3 linked regions of the Homo sapiens genome follow. The protein of the gene in region 1 interacts with the protein of each later gene in a pairwise test. Each region holds a gene or a part of one and is shown in the gene's direction. Other genes may lie near its edges.

What was found.
Region 2: the proteins of SH3D19 (region 1) and SH3RF1 interact in a two-hybrid assay, tested with the Homo sapiens proteins (one large-scale study listed by BioGRID).
Region 3: the proteins of SH3D19 (region 1) and SYNJ1 interact in a two-hybrid assay, tested with the Homo sapiens proteins (one large-scale study listed by BioGRID and IntAct).

Annotation. Positions count from the first base shown.
Region 1 is NC_000004.12:151,168,555-151,172,211, reverse strand, and holds part of SH3D19 (SH3 domain-containing protein 19), read left to right. Parts: exon of another isoform or gene 1-980; intron 981-2,640; exon of another isoform or gene 2,641-2,803; intron 2,804-3,657. UniProt on the Homo sapiens protein: May play a role in regulating A disintegrin and metalloproteases (ADAMs) in the signaling of EGFR-ligand shedding. May be involved in suppression of Ras-induced cellular transformation and Ras-mediated activation of ELK1.
Region 2 is NC_000004.12:169,260,834-169,264,490, reverse strand, and holds part of SH3RF1 (E3 ubiquitin-protein ligase SH3RF1), read left to right. Parts: intron 1-3,657. UniProt on the Homo sapiens protein: Has E3 ubiquitin-protein ligase activity. In the absence of an external substrate, it can catalyze self-ubiquitination. Stimulates ubiquitination of potassium channel KCNJ1, enhancing it's dynamin-dependent and clathrin-independent endocytosis.
Region 3 is NC_000021.9:32,630,995-32,634,026, reverse strand, and holds part of SYNJ1 (synaptojanin-1), read left to right. Parts: intron 1-2,206; coding exon of another isoform or gene 2,207-3,032. UniProt on the Homo sapiens protein: Phosphatase that acts on various phosphoinositides, including phosphatidylinositol 4-phosphate, phosphatidylinositol (4,5)-bisphosphate and phosphatidylinositol (3,4,5)-trisphosphate. Has a role in clathrin-mediated endocytosis.

The DNA of each region.
Region 1 (3,657 bases):
TGTCATTGTAAATAAAGGTTTATGGTCCTGGGAAACCTTGCCTAATCATCCAGACACCAGGCAGAAACTGGGAGAGGAACACAGGAGAAAGAAGAGAAACTTACAAATAACTCTTCCCTTCCGTTTCTCTTACCTCAAAAATAAAGAAAATCTAATAAAATAGCATTCATAAAATGAAGTTGCCATATTAATCTCAGGAAATAGAGATCTGAAAATACTGAAGCTATGAAAACATTGTAAAGATTAGAAAAATTATTAAATAAAAACTCATAAAACAGGCAATTTAATATTGGATTCATTTCTTGGGTAGAATGCCTTCCAGGTTAATGTAATGGAGCCCAGAAGTATTAGCAATTCTTCTTCACACCTTTACAAATCATACCCAGTTGTCAAAAGAAGCAGAATGTTTCTGCCATCAGCCCCATTACACAGACCAGAATAATAGTTTAGCAGCCAATTTCTGCTATTAACAGAACTCAAGGGAAAGAAATGACAGAAAAGCAAGCCAGGGATGGTGAAACTAATTGTGATGACAAGCATATTATTAGAGACAGGTAATGGGCGGAAAACTACTTCATCATCAGTGTTTTTCTCAATCCAGTAATGAAGACCATGCGGATATAGGTGTAAAGAGGCCTCTGCTTGTTCACCAGCAGGTGTGGAATAATTGGTGCTGGTGTGAGGGGGTAGAGGGAAGACAGAATAAACATTGCAAATACAAGTAGACAAAAATGCCATCACTGCAAATAAAAGTAGACAAAAATGCCATTTTCTTGTCTTAGATTCAGATAGGAGATTCTTCTTAAGATGCTCCGTGTTTTTTGTTTTTTGTTTTTCTGTAGAAGCAAGAGCAGTCTGTGATAGAATTATGGCAGCAAGTTCTTAACCCTTTCCAGATTACCAAACTCTGAGAATCTGACATAGCCTGAGAGTCTTTTCTCTCCCTTGAAAATAGCCATTAATTCAGTGACTGTTTGGAGCTGTGAGGAAAAAAAAAAAAAGAAAATAGCCATTAGCTCATGTGTACACAATTCAAGGTACAATATCCAGAGCTTAGAGGGCCCATTTTGGGCTCTAGATTAAGGACTTCTACTACAGAATATTGGAAATAAATGTCAATGGACTGCTTAAATAAATTATAGTACATCCATAACAATGGAGTATTGTGTGATAATTAAAAGGGAGGGAGACCTATTATCCCCTACTTTGGACCAACCTCCAAGATATTATTAGGTGAAAAATGCAAGATACAGGATACTTTTTATGTTATTTTAGCTATTGTTTGTGTTAAATGTCAAATGCAATGTACAGTAATGTATGAAAAGGTGGTACAAAGTGTGTCTTTTATGAAGGAACTGGATAGGAGAGAACAGGGAACCTGGTTTTCACTGTATGCATTTTGCTCCCTTTTGAATTTCAGACCATGTGGAGGCATTACCTTTAACAAGAGAGTTAATCAATAATCTTTTTAAAAGAGCTGAACATAAGCATAATTAGGCTGAAAGAAACTGGGAGAATTATCTCTTGTCGTCTTTGCCACTTCTGAAGAACTGCTTCCCCCAATGACCCTCAGATTCTGATAAGTAAAAATTTTTAAAATAATAAAATAGTGATTTATCTAAATGGTTATATTATTCAAGGTTACAAATAGAAGCTACTTGTTATGAACTAAATATGCCTAAATTAGATAAATTCAAAATTTTATATCTGCATTATTTCCTTTTAAATTGAACCCCAGAAAAAGAGTTTTTATTTTTCTAGTTACTTTATGGAAAATTTTATGGCCATTATTGCCTTGAAAAAGCAACAAAAGAAACCAGAAGTTTCTTTTGTTCTCTTATTTTTAAGTGGTTTTGTTCTGGTTTGTTTGGCAGAGGTGTTAACTCAGCTTAATCTTGTAACTTTTTCCTTATGATTGAATTTATTTTATTGGATTTGTTTCTGTTAGAAAAGTAAAATATATTCGTTGTAACAAGTCAAACAATTCAGAGATTTTGGATTAAAAAAAAATGTAAACTCCCCACGGTAACCAATGTGAACAAAGTATGCAGCCTTCTGTGCCTTTGGGCATGCCAAACCAAAGCTTACACATATACACATAATGGACTTTTTCCAGAAATTTTTACCATACGATACCTGTTACTCAGCAGAGTGCTTTAAAAAACAATGACATTTATGACTTCTCTTCAGGATAATAGGTCTAATTCTAATTCATTTTCTCCTACTATGAGGTATCCTGCCTGATACCTCATAGTATATCATAGCTGGTTCAGTATTTCCCCTGTTGATGGACATTCAGGTTGTTTTGTTTGTTTTATTTAGTGGGGCAGGGGGATGTTGTTTTGTTTTGTTCCTTGTTGGTTTTTGCCACTACAAAAAATGCTGCAGTAAATACCCTCATAAGCATGTTCACTTCTGCTGATGCTTTTATTTCTGAAGAATAAATTTCTGAACGTGGGACTACTAGTCAAAGGTTATGATCTTTAAACATTTTAACTAGTACTAATGATCCAGTTTCTTACCTGGTGGTGTCTGGAGTACCCCAATATGAGGTGCCAGCCTTGCTTTATATGTTGCCCACTTATAACTTATGTTGGAAAAAATAGCCCTCTTAGGAAAAGACATAAAAAGTGAACTTACGTTGCTAGAGAGAAGCTTGCACACCATCATAAGATAAAAAACAGGCCTCTGGCTCCACCGTCTCATTGAAGTGATGCTGTTTATCCTCCCCACTAATCTGCACTCCTCACATGGATCACAGCCCAGACAACATGCAGACAGAGAGGCAGATGCAGAGCTCACTGACTCAGTGAGCACAGCTGGGGGAGATCATTAAACAGACCACTCCTGCCAAACAGCCTGCGGTGGTGGAACACGAAGACTTCCTTGCCTCGCCACATGGAGAAAGAATTTTTTTTTCCCGGAGACATGTATAGTAGAATAATTATACACTATCTGAGTGCCAGTTATTAAAAAACAGCTAACGGTATTAAAAATTAAAAAAATGAGAGAGTGAGTAAGCTAGGACACTTTGAATACTTCATAAGTTATACCTATGCTACTTCAATTTAAATCCTTCAGGTTAAAACAAAAAATGATTGGACCCTTTAACAGAATAGGTGAGATCTGCCCACACTGTGTGCAGGATTTGGGTCAGGATTTCCTGAGGCCATTCTTCCCACAGCAAGCACGTTTTGGATGCCCCCTATGTTCAGCCCCTCAGGGGTGCTGATTGTCCTCTTTTCTCCTTTCCCTGCCTGCCCCTACCCCCATCCATGCCCTCACTTGTGAAATGTGAGTGTGTAGGTCTTATACTGGCCCAGAATTTAATTTGATTTGGGAAACAATTTAAGTCATTACATGCTCAAGATTTTCTTCCCCCTTCACACCCACCCAAAAAGCATCATTGACTAAAATTTTAAACTAATAACCAACAGGGTATTGATACCAAAAGCAGCTGTTAAAGAAATAGCACTTCAGGCCAGGCACAGTGGCTCACACCTATAATCCCAGCACTTTGAGAGGCCAAGGTGGGAGGATCACTTGAGCCCAAGAGGTCAAGACCAGCCTGGACAACACAGTGAAACCTCATCTCTACAAAAAATAAAAATTAGCCAGGCATGGTGGCACATTCCTGTAGTACCAGATACTCAGGAG
Region 2 (3,657 bases), about 18 Mb from region 1:
CCTGTTGCTGACTGTTAGGGGCTGAATTATGTCCCCCAACATTGCTACGTTGAAGTTCTAACTCCTAGTACCTCACAATGTGGCCATATTTGGGGATAGGACCTTTAAAGAGGGGGTTAAGGTAAAATGAGGTCACATGCATGGGCCCTAATCCAGTAAGACCAGTGTTCTTATAAGAAGAGGAGATGAGGATGCAGACACATAGGGAAGACCATGTGAAGACACATGGAGAAGATGCCACTTACCAACCAAGGAGAGTTGCCTTCAAAGGAAGCCAACCCCACTGACACCTTGATCTTGGACTTCCAGCCTCCAGAACTGTGAGGAAATACATTTTTGTTGTTTAAGCCACCCAGTCTGTGCCCTTGGATGTAGTAGCCCTAGCCAACTTGTACTCTGACTGTAGACATACTCCTAAAGGTCAGCCCCTTGAGTGGCCTCTCGGTCCACTGCCAATCCCTTCAGTCCTGGTTTCCCCAGAAACTGGCAGTGGTCCAGCCTTCTGTGTTCTGTCATGGAATACCTTTGAGAAGTTGTTCAGCCCCTCCCTACTCCCTCAACTACCCACATTGCCTGGCATAATTTCTTAAAATAGACAGGCATGTTATAAGGAAGTTGAAGTTTATGTGACAGTATACCAGATGCACAGAAAGTTCTGGAGGAAATGAAGGAAATATTGAGAGGGGAAAACTACTACTTTCTTATCTCTGACAAATTGGATTGATCTGTAGCTGGAGTCTGGAGAGAGTGCTTTCCAGGACTCAGTAGTACCTAAGGCATTACTCAAGGGATAGGTAATGATGGACAAACCAGATACAGATCCTTACTTGGTGCTTTCCAGGGCTAAGTAGCACCCTAGTAAGGCATTCTAGGCTTTATTCCAAGGAATGGCATTGGCAGAAAGAATTGAAGGAAGTAGTGGGAGAAAGTTAGGACAACTGAGTTGCTCCAGGTTTGGTGTGGAAAGCAACTGCCAGCTGTGAACTGTGCCGTGGGACATCTTTGACATCCATCTATGAACAAGCACCTGTAGAGAGCTTTCAGGTCCAGTTATGTTCAATAATCTATACTAGGTCAAAGATGACATTAATGCATGTTTCTGTTGAAAAAGTTTACATTTGGGGGAGGTAACACACAAGAAACAACAAGTAAGGCAGCAGATAGTGAAGCATCAGGGGGTGGGATAAGATATAGAATAAGTCTCTATCTATGATGGGGTTCTTTTTTGTAGTTCGTGGTCCTTGGATTAAGTGCATGGTCAAAGAATACCAAGTGTGGACCAGAGTGGTTGGGACATGCTCCCCTGGCGTGTAAGGTTCACTACAAACACTGACGGACAAAGGAGTTGTTGTCTTCGCACAGATGGGGATGGGGATGTGTATTAACTCATACCGGACCCAAGCAAGACATTTAATGTGGTGGTTTGGATGAGGGAAATGTTTCTGTGTGTTTCAGAATGATTGAATTAAAACGGAAAAGGTGGGTTTTGTTTGTTTGTTTGTTTTGGCTAAACCATGTTTGTTGCATGCTTGACCTCTTATTTTATCCATCCTTGATCCTTACTCCAGGCTTCATGTCTGCCCCATCCCTGACCTTTACTTCATTCCTGAGCTAGGCTTGATGGTGAGACTCGGAGATGAGATCTTGAACAGGGTAGAAGGAAGGTATGGGAAAGGGGGTCTGTGGTGCATACTAATTGATAATTTTTTTAAAAAAGTAATGATTCTTTTTTATATCACATAAAGTGTCATGTAACCATAATCATGTAAACCTCACAACAGCTTTCTGGGGTCAAGTGTTATCATTTTATTTATTTATTTTTTTGAGACAGAGTCTCACTCTGTCACCCAGGCTGGAGGGCGATGGTGAGATCTCAGCTCACTGCAACCTCAGCCTCCTGGGTTCAAGCGATTCTCCCACCTCAGCCTCCCAAGTAGCTGGGATTACAGGCGCCTACCGCCATGCCTGGCTAATTTTTGTACTTTTAGTAGAGGTGGGTTTTCACCATGTTGGCCAGGCTGGTCTCCAACTCCTGACCTCAAGTGATCCACCCACCTTAGCCTCCCAAAGTGCTGGGATTACAGGCGTGAGCTGCGGCACCCAGCCTAAGTGTTATCATTTTTAAAATGAGAAAGAATGTAGATTTCAAAATGTATGTAAAAGCATTCTGGTTGTAAAAAAAAATTCAACCATATAGAAGAATATGTTATTAAGTGTGTATATACTTGCAGATCTTTTCATATACATTTATATGTGTATGCATATAGTTTCTTGATTTTTTGCAGAACTAGAATTTCATGCTCTGGAGATTCAATGATTTGCTAATTCATTTACTATATCTATGAAATCTCTTCATGTTTAAGCACATAGACCTACTCCAGTTTTTGAAAAAACTCTTTATTGATGTATAATATACACATAGAAAAGTGTACTAATTATGTGTACCATTCATTTAATTTTTCATAGTATTTTTCTCATAGTATTTTTACTCATAGAATTTTTCTTCATAGTATTTTTCTCATAGCATTTTTCTTTCTGTTTAAAAAATACTCAGTGTAAGAAAAATACTCATAGTATTTTTCTTTGTTTTAAGAATTAAAAATAATACATGCTTATGGTAAGAAATGTAATAGTAGAAGATGATGTAAAGGAGAAAATCAAGGCTTCCAATATCTCTACTCCTTTGTTCCTAATCTCTAGGGGTAACCACTGTCACAAGGTTTTTTTGTGTTTTCTTTCAGACAAAAAATTGAATAGAAATGGAATCACATTGTATATGCAGTTCTGCAACTTGTGGTTTTTAATTTAATGATAAAACTTGGATAGCTTCCGTATCTACTCACATTGATCTATAAGAAGCTATTATGCATTCTTTTTTTTTTTTTTGAGATGGTCTCACTTCTGCCCAGGTTGGAGTGCAGTTGGAGTGTTTACGGCTCACTATACATTATTATTCTTATTTCATGGATGTAGGAGGGGTGGCTGAAAGACTTTAAATAACTTGTCCAATTTCTGATCCCAAATGCTTCCTTCCCTTACCTGCAGTTGACTTAAGTGACAAACATTTTCCCTGGGACCTCATGTTGCTTTTAGCAGGGGAATCTTTTCTCAGTTGCAGCTGGCAGAGGTTATTCTTTCCTCACTGTCCTTGCTTCCTATTTTGTTTTGACAAAAAGAGGACAAATAAAGCTCCTTTACAATGACAGTGGACCAGGAAAGCAGACTCTCCTTAGCTTGATGTATGGGGAAGAGTGTGGTTTGGAGGTCAGAAGTTGTGGCCTCTGGTTCCAACACTGCCATGGGCTGGCTGTGGGGTTTCTCTGGGCTTCATTTCTTCAGCTCAAAGATGCGGAGCCATAGGGACCTAAGCTCCATGCAGAGTGGTTGTGGGAATGGGGCTGGTGAGGGGGCTGAGTTTGGTCCATCTTTGACTTTTCAGAGCCCTTTGTAGTGTCTGGCACAGAGTACACACTCACAAGAGGTTTGTTGAATAAATGAGTGAATAAGTGAGTGGAGTACCAACCTCTCTAGGGATCCTTAGCTGTATATTTAATTTCATTTCTATTTGGGATGATGAGAACCAAAGTTACTGAAAAGATACCGAAAAGATTATAAAGTGGATGTAGTGTTTGGCTGTAGAGCTACATAAAATACAGA
Region 3 (3,032 bases), on another chromosome or scaffold:
TTTCATTTTGTATTAACTATAAATAGTCCAGAGATTTTTGGTAATATAGAGTTAATTTTATAATATCTATATAAATTTCCTTTTAAGTACATTTCCACATATAGGTCTACTTACCTAAGACATTTAGAGTACAGTTTAAAGTCTGTGACATGTTTTCTCTTTAGTTTTGTACAAATTTATCACACTAAGTTTGAAGAAAAATATACTGTTTCAACCAATTATAAAGCATATTCTAGGATAGTTGAATAAAACAGATACTTGAAAGTTATTCACTTAAGTCATCCATTTCCTTTTACAAGTGAACATCCTTCCATATTCTTAAGCAGTAACTAAGTGTTTCATAGTATGCAGTTACATTTTATTGAGACTGCTGCTGTTTTTTTCCAATATATTTCATGAAAGTATAGTTATGTTGCTTTAACAACTATCCAAATTCCTTTTGGGCAGTGCTCATTTTATTACATTGCCAGTCTTGAACTGAATTTTTTTTTGCCCTATCGTATCCAACCCTGAAGTTTTCTTAAGTTAGCATAAGTGTCCAAGTCATCTACCCTAGTTTTAAGAATTATATACATTTTTTTCAAAATTAATAATGTATGCCTGATAAGCTAATTTGCTTATGAGGCAAGAATCATAGTTCTTTTCCTTCATCCGATCATTTGTCTTTGCTCAGTCCCTTGGCTGTGCTCCACTCCAACCACCTTCTTTATGGAGTAGGGACCAAGGGATTTAGGGCAGGAGTGAAGGAATTCCAAGCACTCTTCCTACTGATAACAGTTCACAGCCAACTCTGTCACATAGAAGGGACCAGGCACCACTCTAGGCACATCATTGTGGTTGTAGACTTCATAAACCAAATAGAAAATGGAACTTTTTTTCCTCTGGTTTTAAGCAATGGTTGCATTTGGTTACTAATAGTGTATCTGTTTTGGAATATTTTTACAAGACAGGAGGGTCAATTTTTTTATGGAAAGTTGTCACATTACTCAGTTTTTGTTTTTTGTTTTTTGAGGCGGAGTTTTGCTCTTGCCCAAGCTGGAGTGCGGTGGTGCGATCTCAGCTCACTGCAACCTCTGCCTCCCAGGTTCAAGCAATTCTCCTTCCTCAGCCTCCTGAGTAGCTGGGATTATAGGCGCGCACCACCATGCCCAGCTAATTTTTTGTATTTTTAGTAGAGACAGGTTTCATTATGTTGGCCAGGCTGGTCTGGAACTCCTGACCTCAGGTGATCCACCTGCCTCAGCCTTACAAAGTGCAGGGATTATAGGCTTGAGCCACCGCGCCCAGCCTCACATTACTCAGTTTATTCAACAAAGGAGAGCTTACATTAAAAGTCAGCTGTGCCGGGCATGGTGGCTCACGCCTGTAATCCTGACACTTTGGGAGGCTAAGGTGGGCAGATTGCCTGCACTCAGGAGTTTGTGACCAGCCTGGGCAACATAGTGAAACCCCATCTGTACTAAAATACAAAAAATTAGCTAGACCTGGTGGCACACGCCTGTAGTCCCAGCTACTCAAGAGGCTGAGGCACAAGAATCACTTGAACCCGGGAGGTGGAGGTTGCAGTGAGCCAAAATCGTGCCATTGCACTCCAGCCTGGGTGACAGCACAAGACTTGGTCTCCAAAAAAAAAAAAAAGAGGGGGTGGGCAAAGAACTCTCAAAATTTATTTTTCCAAGTAGAAGACAGAAAGATGGAGTCTTCGTCTTAGGAATAAAATATGCTAATAGAATTAATTTTATCTATAAAATTGAATTTCCATAGTAACATTAATTTTAGAAAACACACTTAAAAGAACAATGAAACCACATCATCATCATAGATGGGTGTTAGAATTTTATTTATATAGATTTAGCATAAGTTATAAGTATGGATTTCTTAAGTTCATGCTGAAATGTGATAGAACTGGGCATGAACAAATTTGTTAATTCTGTACAATTCTCCTTCTTACCATTTCAAAACTTGCATGAATGAAATAAGCTCTTTGATTTTGAGGGATTTAAAAATGGATTTAATTAGAAAGGATTTATTTAGAAAGAAGTTTTTAAAGACTGTAGGTGTTTCATGTTATTTAAACCACCGGAGTAACAAACTACACAAAGCTACTTTTTAGTTTCTAAATTTACATGCTTGCCCCTAAAAGGGAAGAATAATTGAGACAGGAAGAATAGGGGGTATTAAGAGTAAATATAAACTGATTTTTCAGTGCTCCCTTTCTTTTGCAGGTAAAAACAAATGGAATCTCTGATGGCAAAAGAGAATCACCATTAAAGATTGACCCATTTGAAGATCTGTCATTTAATCTGCTTGCTGTATCAAAGGCTCAGCTATCTGTTCAAACGTCACCTGTTCCCACCCCAGACCCAAAGAGGTTGATTCAGTTGCCTTCTGCAACGCAAAGTAATGTTTTGAGTTCTGTAAGTTGCATGCCAACAATGCCTCCAATTCCAGCTCGGAGTCAATCCCAGGAAAATATGCGAAGTTCTCCAAACCCATTTATTACTGGCTTGACCAGGACAAATCCTTTCAGTGACAGGACTGCTGCTCCTGGAAACCCATTTAGAGCCAAGTCTGAAGAATCAGAGGCAACTTCATGGTTCTCCAAAGAAGAGCCCGTTACTATCAGTCCTTTCCCTTCTCTGCAGCCTCTTGGTCATAACAAAAGCAGGGCTTCATCTTCACTTGATGGCTTTAAGGACAGTTTTGATCTACAGGGCCAGTCTACATTAAAAATTAGCAACCCGAAAGGATGGGTAACCTTCGAGGAAGAAGAGGATTTTGGTGTGAAAGGGAAGTCAAAGTCAGCTTGTTCAGACTTACTGGGTAATCAGCCAAGTTCATTTTCTGGCTCCAACCTGACATTGAATGATGACTGGAATAAAGGTACAAATGTCTCCTTCTGTGTGTTGCCGTCAAGAAGACCTCCTCCACCTCCTGTCCCTCTGCTCCCGCCCGGCACCAGCCCTCCAGTAGATCCTTTCACGACCTTGGCCTCTAAGGCTTCACCCACACTGGACTTTACAGAAAGATAA